Linked DNA regions of Homo sapiens: regions 1 and 3 are each linked to region 2. Evidence: fine-mapped expression QTL. A gene starts in region 2. Each other region holds a variant in brackets. All regions are shown on one strand. Distances are from middle to middle. Region 1 has its middle 30 kb from the start of LINC02079. Region 2 holds the start of PLXDC1 (plexin domain containing 1). Region 3 overlaps PLXDC1 (plexin domain containing 1).

Region 1 (4,173 bases), 95 kb after region 2:
TAGGCAGAGGTAAACATTACTTAAAACCAAAGGTCCTGGTCTACTGACTTTTGGACTCTGGGATGGTACTGCTGGTGGTGCTGCCGGCAGCTCACATTTACTGGGTGTTTCCTATGTTCCAAGCACATTTTAGGAGATTTACTTGTATCGTCATCTATGGGGTGGGTGCTGTTGCTACCTCTACCCTACACAGGAGGCCACTGAGGCACAGCGCAATAGGGAACTGTATGTTTTTGTATTTTTAGTACAGATAGAGTTTTGCCATATTGCCAAGGCTGCTCTCGAACTCCTGGTCTCAAGTGACCCGTCCGACTCAGTCTCCCAAACTGCTGGGATTACAGGCATGAGCCACCGTGCCCAGCCTGATCTTTAAATTTTTTCTGTAGAGATGGGGTCTCACTATGTTGCCCAAGCTGAGATTTCTTAAAAAGGGACAGCATAAAATGACATGGGGTTTAGCATCAGTAGGTTTGAGTTCAACCTTAAGCTTCCATAATTCTTGTCAGGAACCTTAAGCAAGTCAATTAACCACCCTGAGTTTGAGTTTCTTAATCTAAAAAAACCAGAGAACTGGAAGATTAGTGTGGCAATGCATCTGAAAATATTCTGTAAACCAGAGTGCTGGACAAATGCTAATCTATTATTGAATTCAGCACTTCATTTCAGCGGAGCTAGGAATTCCATATTTGGAGCCACCTTGACAGGAGATGTCTGAAAAAGCTGCTTCCGGTGGCATGCCTTTTGGGCTCCGTGGACAGCCATTGCTGAATAAAACTTAATGACGCCATAGAAACCAGAATGGGCCACTGCAGCATTTGGGAAGACCCGGACTGAATACAAAAGGTCAAACTGGGAAAATGCTGTGAACAGTGAAAGCTGTGGGGGTGGTCCTACGCCAAATAAGCGCATGAAATCTCACGCCCAGAAAACAAAACCGCCCATGCCTTCATATTCCCCAAACGCTTCTTCGAGAAGGATGCAATTCAAAACACTTCCCACTTAACCAACAAGTTTTCTTCTTAAGATCCTAAACTTGAAGAAGTCCTAGAAGGTAAAATGTGCTGACTGGAGAGGTACCTCTCCGGGACTCTAAAAATCTGTTTGGGGTAGCTGTCTGCTGGGGTCCCCTCTAGAATTAAGAGTCCTTCAGCGGGCCAGGCGCGGTGGCTCACGCCTGTAATCCCAGCACTTTGGGAAGCCACGGCGGGCGGATCACCTGAGGTCAGGAGTTCGAGACCAGCCTGGCCAACAAGGTGAAACCCCCGCCTCTACTAAAATACAAAATTAGCCAGGTGTGGTGGCGGGCACCTGTAATCCCAGCTACTCCGGAGGCCGAGTCAGGAGAATCGCTTGAACCCGGGAGGCGGATGCTGCAGTGGGCAGAGATCGCGCCACTGCACTACAGCCTGGGCAACAGAGCAACAGTGTGTCTCAAAAAAAAAAAAAAAAAAAAAAAAGAGTCCTTCAGCAGAGGCTGAGGCAGGTGAGGTGCTGAAGCAGGACTCTGGAACTCCCAGTTAGCAGGTGGGCGGCTTTCTCCATCCCTCCCTCCACCCTGGCCCAGGCTCACATGCAAAGCGTCGGCCGTGGGTCCAGAGCTCAGCTCCCACACTAGCAAGGTTTTGTCACTCTTGGTGGGAACCGCAAAAGGTAGCAGATCCGCCA[G/T]CCTCCCTTCGCTGAGCCTGCGCGGCTAAGGCTCGCGCAGTACTGCGCCTGCGCAAGGCACGCCCACGCTTTTTTTAAAAAAAGAGGCGCAGGCGAGGGGAGGGGCGGCGCCCGGATCGCTCCCTCGCCCCTCCTACCTGGGGCCGGCCTCTGAGCCTGTTCCTGTCCTCCAGCCACACCGCCACGATCCCTGAGTTTAGAACTTCCATTCAAGTGCATGTTTAGGGTACAGTCCCAAAATGGCCTGACAGCATGAAAGGGTAGGGACATATTTATAGCAGCCAGTTTCATCTTCACTCCTGCTGGAGATTAGGGTACTAAGTATTAGCACTACCTACTGAGCTTGTGGGAAATAACCATGAAAGATGCAATCTTTTGACTTAAGAGGTTTTTTTTTAAGGAGTTTAACATATTCAAATAAAAGTATAACTCACTAAGCTATTAACAGTCTAGCATGAAATCCTTAAAAAGAATTTCCTAGTTGTCCTACGTGATTCTGGGGAATTGTGTACGTGAACTTGTGGAGGTCAGATGATGTGGGAGATGGGAGGTTTGAATGAGAAGTAGAGATCAATTTTGAAAAAAAAAAAAAAATTCAAAGAATAGGTCCAAATTGGAGCTGATAGTGTCTGAGAGGGGTAGGTGTCATAATCAGCTACGTGGTAGAGCAGTGTAATCACCTGATGGGTTCATTGTACCCACTGCCCAGAAAAGCCGATTTACTGAGACAGCATTATTGAAATAGAGAAAGAGTTTAATAAGCACAGAACTAGCTAAATAGAAGACTGGAGTTTTATTATTACTCAAATCAGCCTCCCTGAAAATTTGGAAGCTAGGGTTTTTTAAGGATAGTTTGGCAGGCTGGGGGCTAGGGAGTGGGAAATGCTGATTGGTTGGGTCAAGGATGAAATCATAGGGTGTCAAAACTTGTGTTCTTGTGCTGAGTGAATTCCTGGTTGGGGGCCACAAGACCAGATGAGCCAGTTTGCCAATCTGAGTGGTCCCAGCTGGTCCATCAGAATACAGGGTCTGAAAAATACCTAGAACGCCAATCTTAGGTTTTTTTTTTTTTTTTTTTTGAGACGGAGTGTTGCTCTGTTGCCCAGGCTGGAGTGCAGTGGCGCAATCTTGGCTCACTGCAAGCTCCGCCTCCCGGGTTCAGCCATTCTCCTGCCTCAGCCTCCCCAGCAGCTGGGACTACAGGCACACACCACCACGCCCGGCTAATTTTTGTATTTTTAGTAGAGACGGGGTTTCTCTGTGTTAGCCAGGATGGTCTCGATCTCCTGAACTTGTGATCCACCCGCCTCGGCCTCCCAAAGTGCTGGGATTACAGGCATGAGCCACCGCGCCCGGCCCTTAGGTTTTACAATAGTAATATTGAAAGGAGTTAGTTAGCTTGCCTTAGGTAGATAACAAGGGAAGGGTCCCCAGAGAGCTCCCGGCCCACAGGTCAGTGCCTCATCCCCACACAACAGAAAAAGCAGCCTGGGAAAACATTCAAGCTGCAGGCACCCATAAGGGAACAGGCACAGGGTGTTGTGCCTGGAGACATGCCCACGGCTGCACAGATAGAAAAACCTCAGGTCCATTTGGATAAAAACTTCAACAAACTTCCATCTCACTCACATAAAGGAACAAGACCTGGCATAGAAATGTCTTTGTCCTTTGTATAGTCAGCGGCCTCCCAGGACAAAGTTTCTTCTCCTTTTGTGGGCGTGGCTACAGTGGGCTCCAGTGGGTTCCAGTGGACACTCTACTTTCCTTTTTGGACTATAAGTTTGGCCTCTGTGAATTATCACTTCAGCCCTTGATAGGTCCGGGGCCAAGCTTTCACTTCAGCTCCTGATAGGTCCTGGGCCAAGCTAAGCAGCATCTAGGAATCATCATTTCAGCTCGTGATTGGTCCTGGGCCAAGCTAAGCAGCATCTAGGAATCATCATTTCAGCTCCTGAGTGGTCCTGGGGCAACTAACCACATTCCTTCCCCTTCCCAGTCTTTAAAAACCCTGGACATCAGCCTCATAGGGGCACCCGTGTGGGACTCCCTTTCTGCTGGCAGAGAGCTTTCTTCTTTCGCTTATTAAACTTTCACTCTAACCTCACCTTTGTGTCTGCTCTCCTTAATTGTCTTGGAGGTAGGACAAAGAACTCTGGGGCGCATTATCTCAGACAAGGAGCGACTGTTAAATCTTGGTGCATTGCTGAGACTATAACAATGTTATGGGGTTTTTTTTGTTTTGTTTTGTTTTGTTTTTAGACAGTCTCCCTCTGTTGCCCAGGCAGTGGCGCAATCTTGGCTCACTGCAACCTCCGTCTCCTGGGTTCAAGCGATTCTCCCCCGTCAGCCTCCTAAGTAGGTGGGGTAACAGGTGCCTGCCACCACACCCGGCTAATTTTTGTATTTTTAGTAGAGACAGGGTTTCACCATGTTGGCAAGGCTGGTCTTGAACTCCTGACCTTAAGTGATCCACCCCCCTCCTCCCAAAGTGCTGGAATTACAGGCATG
Region 2 (4,173 bases):
GAGTGGGACGCCCCCGAAGTGAAATATTTCGAGAGACTTCTCCTTCCACACCCCAGGAATATATTTTCTTATACTGCCAGTGGGGATCTTCAGCTCAGAGCTTCAGGGAACAACCCCTGCTTCCAAGTGAGTAATTCTTCTGGGAGTTGTATTTTTTCCATCTCTTGTAAACGTCTTACCCCACTTCCACTTCCCTTCGGGAACGCCACACAGCGCCTGCGCAGCAATACCACTAAACGACTACGTGCGGTCGGTTTGCCGGCAGAGGGGGTATAGCTCAGTGGTAGAGCATTTGACTGCAGATCAAGAGGTCCCCGGTTCAAATCCGGGTGCCCCCTCTTTGGCCTTTTCGAGATACTGTTTTTGTCCTGGGTGTCGATTTTTCCTAAGCTGTTTGCTTTTACTCCTACTGGCAGACGAGGAGCAGTGAGGGACTGAAAGGAACTGGGGATTCAACAGCAGTGGCTCTCAAAATGTGGTCCTGGGACCAGCAGCATTACCTGGGTACGCTCGGGCCTCATCCCAGACCTAATGAATTAGAAACTTGAGGGTGGAGTCCAGAAATCTGTGTTTTCATATACGCTCCCCATCGCTTGAGTCCAGGAGTTGGAAGCTGCAGTGAGCTATGATCGCAGCACTGCACTCCAGCCTAGGCAACGTGCGAGAACCTGTCTCAAAAAACAAACAAAATACACACACACACACACACACACACACACACACACACACACACACACCCTGCAGGTGATTACGATCTCAAGTTCTAGAGGCTTACGTTAAAATTTACACATTTGCTTCTACTATTTACAAGTTTATGTTTCAGCCTGAGCTCTTCTTGTAAGACAGACCACGAGGTACCCCAGATGGAGGAATGTGCAAAGACGCCGGGGCTGGAGCTGGAATCCGTCCCGAGACTTCTCACCTTGACCTCGAGGAAGGCAGGAGGTCGGAGACAGGGGGTGGGCAGGCTGGGGAAAGAGGAAACCCGCAGGACAAGAGGGTTGTGGCTCGTCACGTGGCCACTTGAGGGCAGCAAGTAGCTGCAGCTGGAGGTAGCTGCCTATCTGATTCTGTTTGAGAGTCCGCCAAGTTGGGATTTAAATTAGACATCAAGAAGAATTTACAGACCGGCCTTGCCTTGTTCCACGGTAAGGGGACATTGGGTTTAGGGCTGGAGGAGGTAGTCTCTGGGACTCTGGGCCCGGCGGAAGGAGGAACCGGCGTTCTAAGAGATTAGAGAGCCTTTAGTTGTTTCCTTTCTTAGGTGTTTTTTTTTCTTTTCTTTTCTTTTTTTTTTTTTTAACCTCAGTGCCACGGAATCCGTCTCTTCCAGCCCACAGTGTACCTTCTCCTGTCCCCGCCCATATCCCTCCTCCTGGAAAATTTCTCCAATGGCGCTCAGCGTTCGCACCCTTCCTCTCCGCGGTTTTCTAGTCCCTAGGCCCCAGCCCACTAGAAGCCAGGATGCCCCCTCACCCCGTCTCCCACTCTCCAGCGCCCCAGCTCCTTGCCGTCACAAGAACGAAGTAGGTCAGGGGAGGGAAGAGGCATCTTCGTGTCCTGACCTGATTCCTTGCCGTCTATTAAATATCCTACATTGCGGGTATTTTTATTCTGTCCTGGAAGAAAAAATAAAAAGATTATCTATCCCCAGAGCCTGTCAGAAGGTGGTGACAGGTGGGGTGAGCCATTTCCTCGTCTGGGGCTGGCTCTGAAGATTGATTGGGTCTGGCCCTGAGTAGGCCTGGAGGCCCCAGAGAGGCAGGAGGCCTGGGTTACCTACTCGTGGGGAGGGGTCCAGACTGTTGCAGAGTAAGGGGTAGCCAGGCCCCCTCCACCCTCACGTCTGCTAGGCTTGGGGGGCAAATCGGTGCTGGAAATGGGGGGTGGAGGGATAAGGTGGAGTCATGGAAGGGGGGTGGGATTCAGGCCCCTCTTGGGGAGAAAAGCTGGGGGTCTTTGCTGCAGGGGGAGATTTCTGGGGGTGGGGGCTGGAGGACAAAGCATCAGAGACGCACAGAATTCCGAAGAACAGCTCAGGAAGTCGCAGAGCTTGGAGGAGCTGGGGGCGGGGAACAGTCAGGGGCCCGTGACCCAGGGATGGGGCGCCTGTCCCTTCCAGGGGTCCAGTCCTCGGGCCTTCTCTCTGCAGCTTTCCCGGCGGAACGGAGGAGGGAAAGGGAGCCAGGAGCTCAGTGAGGAGCGCGGGGCGGCTGATGCTTCTAGGGGTTCTCTCAGCCCGAGGGGCTCCCGCCCTGTCCCCTACTCTGCACCCCTTGCCTTGGGAGCGGCTGCAGAGCTCTAGGGGAGCGCTCCGTTAGGGCTGAGGGCAGGCGCCGGGAGAGCCCCCAACGACGCCGCGCCCCCCGCCCCGCCCCCTGCCCCAGCTCCCCCCCACCCCCACCGACCCAGCGGCCCCCCCAGCTCCCCGCCTGCTCCCGGAGGCCGCAGCCTCCAGCTCCGCTCGCGCTCTCGCCGCTCCTGCCGGCTCGCCCGGCCCCGCGCTCCGCCGTCTCCTCGCCGCCCGCCCCTCCGCCAGCCCCGGGGACCGCGCGGCCGCAGCCTGAGCCAGGGCCCCCTCCCTCGTCAGGACCGGGGCAGCAAGCAGGCCGGGGGCAGGTCCGGGCACCCACCATGCGAGGCGAGCTCTGGCTCCTGGTGCTGGTGCTCAGGGAGGCTGCCCGGGCGCTGAGCCCCCAGCCCGGAGCAGGTAGGACTGGCGGGAGCCGGCCCGGGTGGGCCGGGGGCGGGGAGGGACGGGCAGTCAGGTGTGGGCATGGGCAGGTGTGGACGGCCTGGCGATGTCCGCGAGGGGGGCATTGTCCGCAGGAGGCCAGGAGAGCTGTGGGCTGTGGGCAGGTGGATAGGGACCCCACTTTCCCAAACACATAGGGTGTGTGAGTGACGGTGGAGACACCGATGCCCGGACCTCTCCTTCTCTCCTGGAAGGATACTGGAGGGACCTTAGGAGAGGGGGCTCTATGTGGCCATGGGCTCTGAAAGGGGACAGCGGGAGAGTCATCAGGACCCCTGATCACCCCAGGCAAGGCTGAATTCTGATGAGATGGGAGCCTGGGGAGGCCCCTGCCCCAGCCATGCCTTCTTTTCCTCTTCTCTGCCACACCCCCGACCCCAAAGCTGATCCAGGCTAGGGATAGGTGGGAGCAGCCAGGGGGATGGTGGGGACACAGCGTCTCTGCCTGGGAAGGCAGCAGCCATTCGGTCACCTTCCCTTGCCTATTTGGTGTCAGTAGAGAGGCAGTGGGCCCAGGAAGAAGCAACTTGCTGCTTCTGCACCCCCAGCCTCAAGAGTCCCCCTCCTCACACCTGCTCCCATTTGCCCTGGCAGCCTTTGGCTTTCAGCTACTCTGGCTCTAGATGGGGCACTGGGGTAGGGGGTGGAGGGAGGCGTCCCATTCTGCACACTCCTCTTCCCCCCTACCAGTTCTCCAAACTCATCTCTCCCACCTGGAAGTCCTTTCTGAGATCTACCTGGAATCCCTCATGGTATAATTTTCATAGTCTCTGTTCTCCCCTAAGCACCTAGACTTTCTCTGGGGTTGGGGAGATGGGTAATTTGCAGCCTGGCCCCTCAGCAGAGATGATTAAGAAGATAGATACCTGTGCATCATTGGCATGGGTGCCCCTCAGGTGGGGTGAGGGAGGCGCTGTTGAGGTGAGTGCTGTGGTTGACCTGCTGTGTCTCAGGAGTGTGCTGGCACCAGGCACAGTGTCAGTGGCAATGTTCTTGACTTTAATGGTCCCAGCATGTAGCTGAGACAGACCTGGGTCCCTATTGAGAAGAAGAGTATGTTGGGGGTGGGAGGGGAAGGAGGCTGACAGTGGGAAGTATGGGCAGAGGGCAGTGGAGCTGACGAACCGAGAAGCTGCTGGTGAGAACCACCAATTTTCAGGGAGACCACACAGAGGGTGGCCAGAGACGTGGCTTCTAGTCCCGCCATCTCACTTGCTGTGTGACTTTAGACAAGTTACTTTCTCTCTCTGGACCTATTTTTGCATTTATAAAGTGAGGCTGTTGGCAAAATCTTTGACTCTTGTGCGTGGAATAATGAAGGATCTTTTATAATTGCCTTTCCTTTTCATATTTGTTAGGGTCTTTATGGGTAACTGATACTTTAAAAAAATCAAGGTAAACAGGAGAGAGTTGGATAT
Region 3 (4,173 bases), 63 kb after region 2:
AGAACAGCAAAAAAGCAGTCGGGGCAGAGAGAAAAGGGGCTCACATGCTTCGAGGGCTCCTGGGGTCCTTGTGCGTTGAGTGTCTCCCTTAATTCTCAGGACAACACCATTTGCATGGCATCACCAGCCCCATGTGTGGATGCGGCTCACTGAGTCCCTTGTCCAAGGTCACACAGGCGGTAAGGGCAGAGCCTGTCTGCCCAGCTGCGGCAACCCTAAGCCTCCTCTCCTTGTGTGGTCACCCTCCGGGGGCCGAGCTTCTTTTCCTCCATGCTCTCATCAGTGCCCCCATCTGCTTTCCCCTTTCCACTCGGCCTGGAGCAGCATCTGGCCTGTGGGTAGCAGGTGCACCCTCCTAGTGGCATGGGAGTGGGGGGCACCAGCATTTCAGACAGGCCTCAGGGATGTAGATGCTGCTCAGCTCCAGGGAATCTTTATTGACACCAATGCCAGAGTAGTCTTCTTTTCACTGCATGGAATGACATTCCAAGGTCTTGAATGTTTCAGGGGCTGAAGTGTCCTGCAGCAGGGCATTGTGTTGGGAAGAGAGCATGCTTTGGTGCCAGACCCACGGGGGCGCAGTCCTGGGTTAAGTAGGAGGGACTAATTCCAACGTTAAGGATAAATAAATAATGAGATACAGGCCAGGCATGGTGGCTCACACCTGTAATCCCAGCATTTTGGGGGTCTCAGGCAGGCATATCACCTGAGGTCAGGAGTTTGGGACCAGCCTGGCCAATATGGTGAAACCCCCTCTCTACCAAAAATACAAAATATTAGCCAGGTGTGGTGGTGGGCACCTGTAATCCCAGCTACTCGGGAGGCTGAGGCAGGAGAATTGCTTGAACCTGGGAGGCAGAGGTTGCAGTGAGCCGAGATCATCCCACTGCACTCCAGCCTGGGTGACAGAGCGAGACTCAGTCTCAATAAGTAAATAAATAATGAGATACTATGTGAACCATGGACAAAGCTCCTCTAGGTTCCTTACATAGGAGGGGATGTGGGGGTGGGGCACCCAGCAGTGGCACGGGACGCCCACCCCTTTGTGGATGCCCCTACTCAGCTCTTCTGCCACCTTGGGAAATTTTCCTCCAAACCACCTTCAGCCGAGCGAGAAACGTATGTCCCCACCTACTTCTAGTGACGAAAACCCAATTCAAACTCGCTTAAATGGAAAAGGGGGGTGCACGGAGGATACTGAAGTAGCCCAAAGAACCAAAAGAAGAGCTGAATAGTGGGGCAGGTCCTGGAACCCCAGGGCCCAGAACATACCAGCACTTCCTGTTTCTCTCCATGAGGTGGCTTCATTCTCTGCCTTTCCCCATGAGCCCGGTACTGTGGCCATTCACAGGTTCTGAGCCTGCATCTTCTCAGCTTCATTACCAGACAGCAAAAGGCCTCTTGGTTACAGTTGAAAAGTCCCAGGGGAGGTCTCTGATTGGTCCAGCTCACAGCCGATACCCAGGCCTGGAACAATCACAGCGTGGCCAGAGAGGCAGGATCATGGAAGAAGATGGCAGCTGTGGTTCAGCCCACCTGTAGGAATGGGCCAGGCACAGTACCCCAAGGGGAATGCTGCTGTTTCCAGAAGACGAAAGGGTGTTGGGCGGACCAAACACTGAGTGGTTCTTTCCTCTTGTGGGGTAACTCATTCTCAAAGCTCAATTCCTGGCTGTCTGCTTCTTATTCTTTTTTCTTTCTTTTCTTTCTTTCCGTTCTTTCTTTTCTTTCTATTCTTTTTCTCTTTCTTTCTTTCTTTCTTTTTCTCTCTCTCTCTTTTTTTTTTTTTTTTTT[TTTC/C]AGTCTTGCTCTTGTCACCCAGGCTGGAGTGCAGTGGCACAATCTCAGCTGACTGCAACCTCTGCCTCCCAGGTTCAAGCGATTCTCCTGCCTCAGCCTCTCAAGTAGCTGGGATTACAGGCGTGTACCACCACACCCAGCTAATTTTTGTATTTTTAGTAGAGACAGGGTTTCTACTAAAAACCCTGTTGGCCAGGCTGGTCTCGAACTCCTGACCTCAAGTGATCCACCTGCCTCGGCCTCCCAAAGTGCTGGGATTACAGGCATGAGCCACCATGCCTGGCTGGGCTGCCTGCCTTTCAAAATTGAAGAAAACCAACCCCAAGTCATGGTTCCTGGGTGGGTATCGTGGCCTAGAGAGAAGTATCAGAGCACCTCAGATTGTCATTTTAAAAAAGAAGCCTTTCATGTACAGTTCCAGCTTTTTCCTCCCAAGGGTGTTGTGGTAGGTGTTTCTGTCTTTCCACTCCACAGACAAGAAACTGAGGTCCAAATGACTTGCCTGAGGTTATCCAGCAAGTCGTGAGCAGAACTAGAACGAACTTGGATCTCCTGACTCTGAGGTCCTGTGAGAAGTTTCTGCAGGGACCAAAGTAGGACTCGAGCCTGGCTGCAAGCCCTGAGCCTTGCTGGGGGATTTGTCCAGGAGGGGTGAGGTGGATGGTGGACAGCAACATGCAAAAGTCAGCCTGTCCATCTGCAGACATTCACAGAGCACTCAGCGAGGTTCAGGACCAGATGATCATGGTCTCACACATCCCCAGCCTCCAAATAGACCCTCATGTCCACAGTGTGGTGAGTGCAGTGGGAGGGGGGCACCTGGCCTGAGCCAGGCAGAGGAGGGAGCTGGCCAAGGAGGGCTGCTCAGGGGAAGTGGCCCTTGAGCTAGATCTGCAAGGATGAGCTAGACAGGAAGAAGGGGTGGAAGAACATCTTGGGTCAGGGGAATAGCAGTTGTGAAGGCGCAGAGGCAAGGAGAAGCAAGCATGGGATCCCATTTGTCCTGCCCCCAAGAGCAGCCAGGTCTCTGCGTTGAGTCACTTAGCCTCACACCACAACACTCTCCTCTCCAGGTCCGCACCTGTCCCTGTCTCCAGCAGCGCCAACATCATTGTCCCAGGCTGCTGGGTGCACTTACTGCCTTCAGTGCAGCAGGCTGACCTGTCAGACTGTCCGGGAAGAGGCCTCGATGCCCTCTGCCTGTGATATGCTCCTGACAACAGGCTCTGCCTCTGTTTCAGAATCTCGGCGAAGGAGCATCTTTGAATATCACCGCATAGAGCTGGACCCCAGCAAGGTCACCAGCATGTCGGCCGTGGAGTTCACCCCATTGCCGAGTGAGTAGGGGTCATTCCGCCATCCCAGAAAGAGCTCTGGAGTCAAGCAGACTGGCTTCATGTCCCAGGCCCATGACTGACTCCTGTTTTGTGCAGCCACCTAACTTTTCGGGGCCCTCCATCTCTCTTTTGTAACCCGAGCCTGATGCCACCTCCCTCCCAGAGATAGGGTAAGGGTGAGAACCACCTAGGTGGAGTTGAGCACATCGGCCGCAGCTCTGACATTGATGGGTCCATTCTGGGTTTGGGGTGGGGGTTAGGGCTTGATCTAGGACAGCTATTGTTATTCCCACATAATTGAAACCCGGGAAAGCTGTACCTCTGAGAACGCCTAGACTGAGCCCCCAGAAAAGGTGATCCAGGAACTAGACGGGCCTCAGTTTGTCACTGTATTCTCCTTAGAGGAGGTGATGCTGCGGTCCACAGGCAGGAGGCAATGGAGGGACTTAGCAGGTGGCCTCCATAAACCATGGGACCCTGGCCCTCTGCACCCCACTCACCCATGCTGAAGGCAGCCACCTGCTGTTGTGGAGCCCACAGGATCCGCGGTGGATGCTCTTCGGGATGGGGCTGGGACAGCTGAGACTGCGGGAAGGAGTACAGCATCTTCCTTCTTGTTGTTTTATGAAGGTCTTCATTTCCTCTCCCATCTTGTGGTGCCCCCAGCTTCCTGCTGAAGCCATGGCCTTCTCCCTGCCTCAGTGGCATTTCTTCTTTTTCTTCTTCTTTTTTTTTTTTTTTTTTTTTGAGACAGTCTCACTCTGTTGCCCAGGCTAGAGTGCAGTGGTGTGATCTCGGCTCACTGCAATCTCTATCTCCCAGGTTCACGTGATTCTCCTGCCTCAGCCTCCCAAGTAGCTGGGATTACAGGCACCCGCCACCATGCCCGGCTAATTTTTGTATTTTTAATAGAAATAGGGTTTCACTCTGTCGGCCAGGCTGGTTTTGAACTCCTGACCTCAAGTGATCCACCCACCTCGGCCTCCCAAAGTGCTGGGATTACAGGTGTGAGCCACCACGCCTGGTGCTGGGATTTCAG

What was found.
Region 1: its variant is fine-mapped to the expression of PLXDC1 in neural progenitor cells (Aygun 2021, PIP 0.90).
Region 3: its variant is fine-mapped to the expression of PLXDC1 in whole blood (TwinsUK, PIP 0.95).

Annotation. Positions count from the first base shown.
Region 1 is chr17:39,054,557-39,058,729 of GRCh38, reverse strand. It overlaps the pseudogene RDM1P5. Among named protein-coding and RNA genes, the nearest start is that of LINC02079, 30 kb to the right of the region's middle. RefSeq lists a silencer at 1,630-1,869. The variant G/T (reference allele first, on the strand shown) is at 1,666.
Region 2 is chr17:39,149,899-39,154,071 of GRCh38, reverse strand. It overlaps PLXDC1 (plexin domain containing 1), which reads left to right and starts at 2,435. Exons shown (of 14, transcript NM_020405.5): 1 at 2,435-2,710. The coding sequence starts at 2,635. It overlaps TRC-GCA2-3 (tRNA-Cys (anticodon GCA) 2-3), which reads left to right and starts at 267; the gene lies at 267-338. RefSeq lists enhancers at 1-409, 782-931.
Region 3 is chr17:39,086,568-39,090,740 of GRCh38, reverse strand. PLXDC1 (plexin domain containing 1) reads left to right here. Exons shown (of 14, transcript NM_020405.5): 8 at 3,039-3,134. It also overlaps the pseudogene RDM1P5. Among named protein-coding and RNA genes, the nearest start is that of LINC02079, 62 kb to the right of the region's middle. RefSeq lists an enhancer at 2,934-3,434. The variant TTTC/C (reference allele first, on the strand shown) is at 1,795.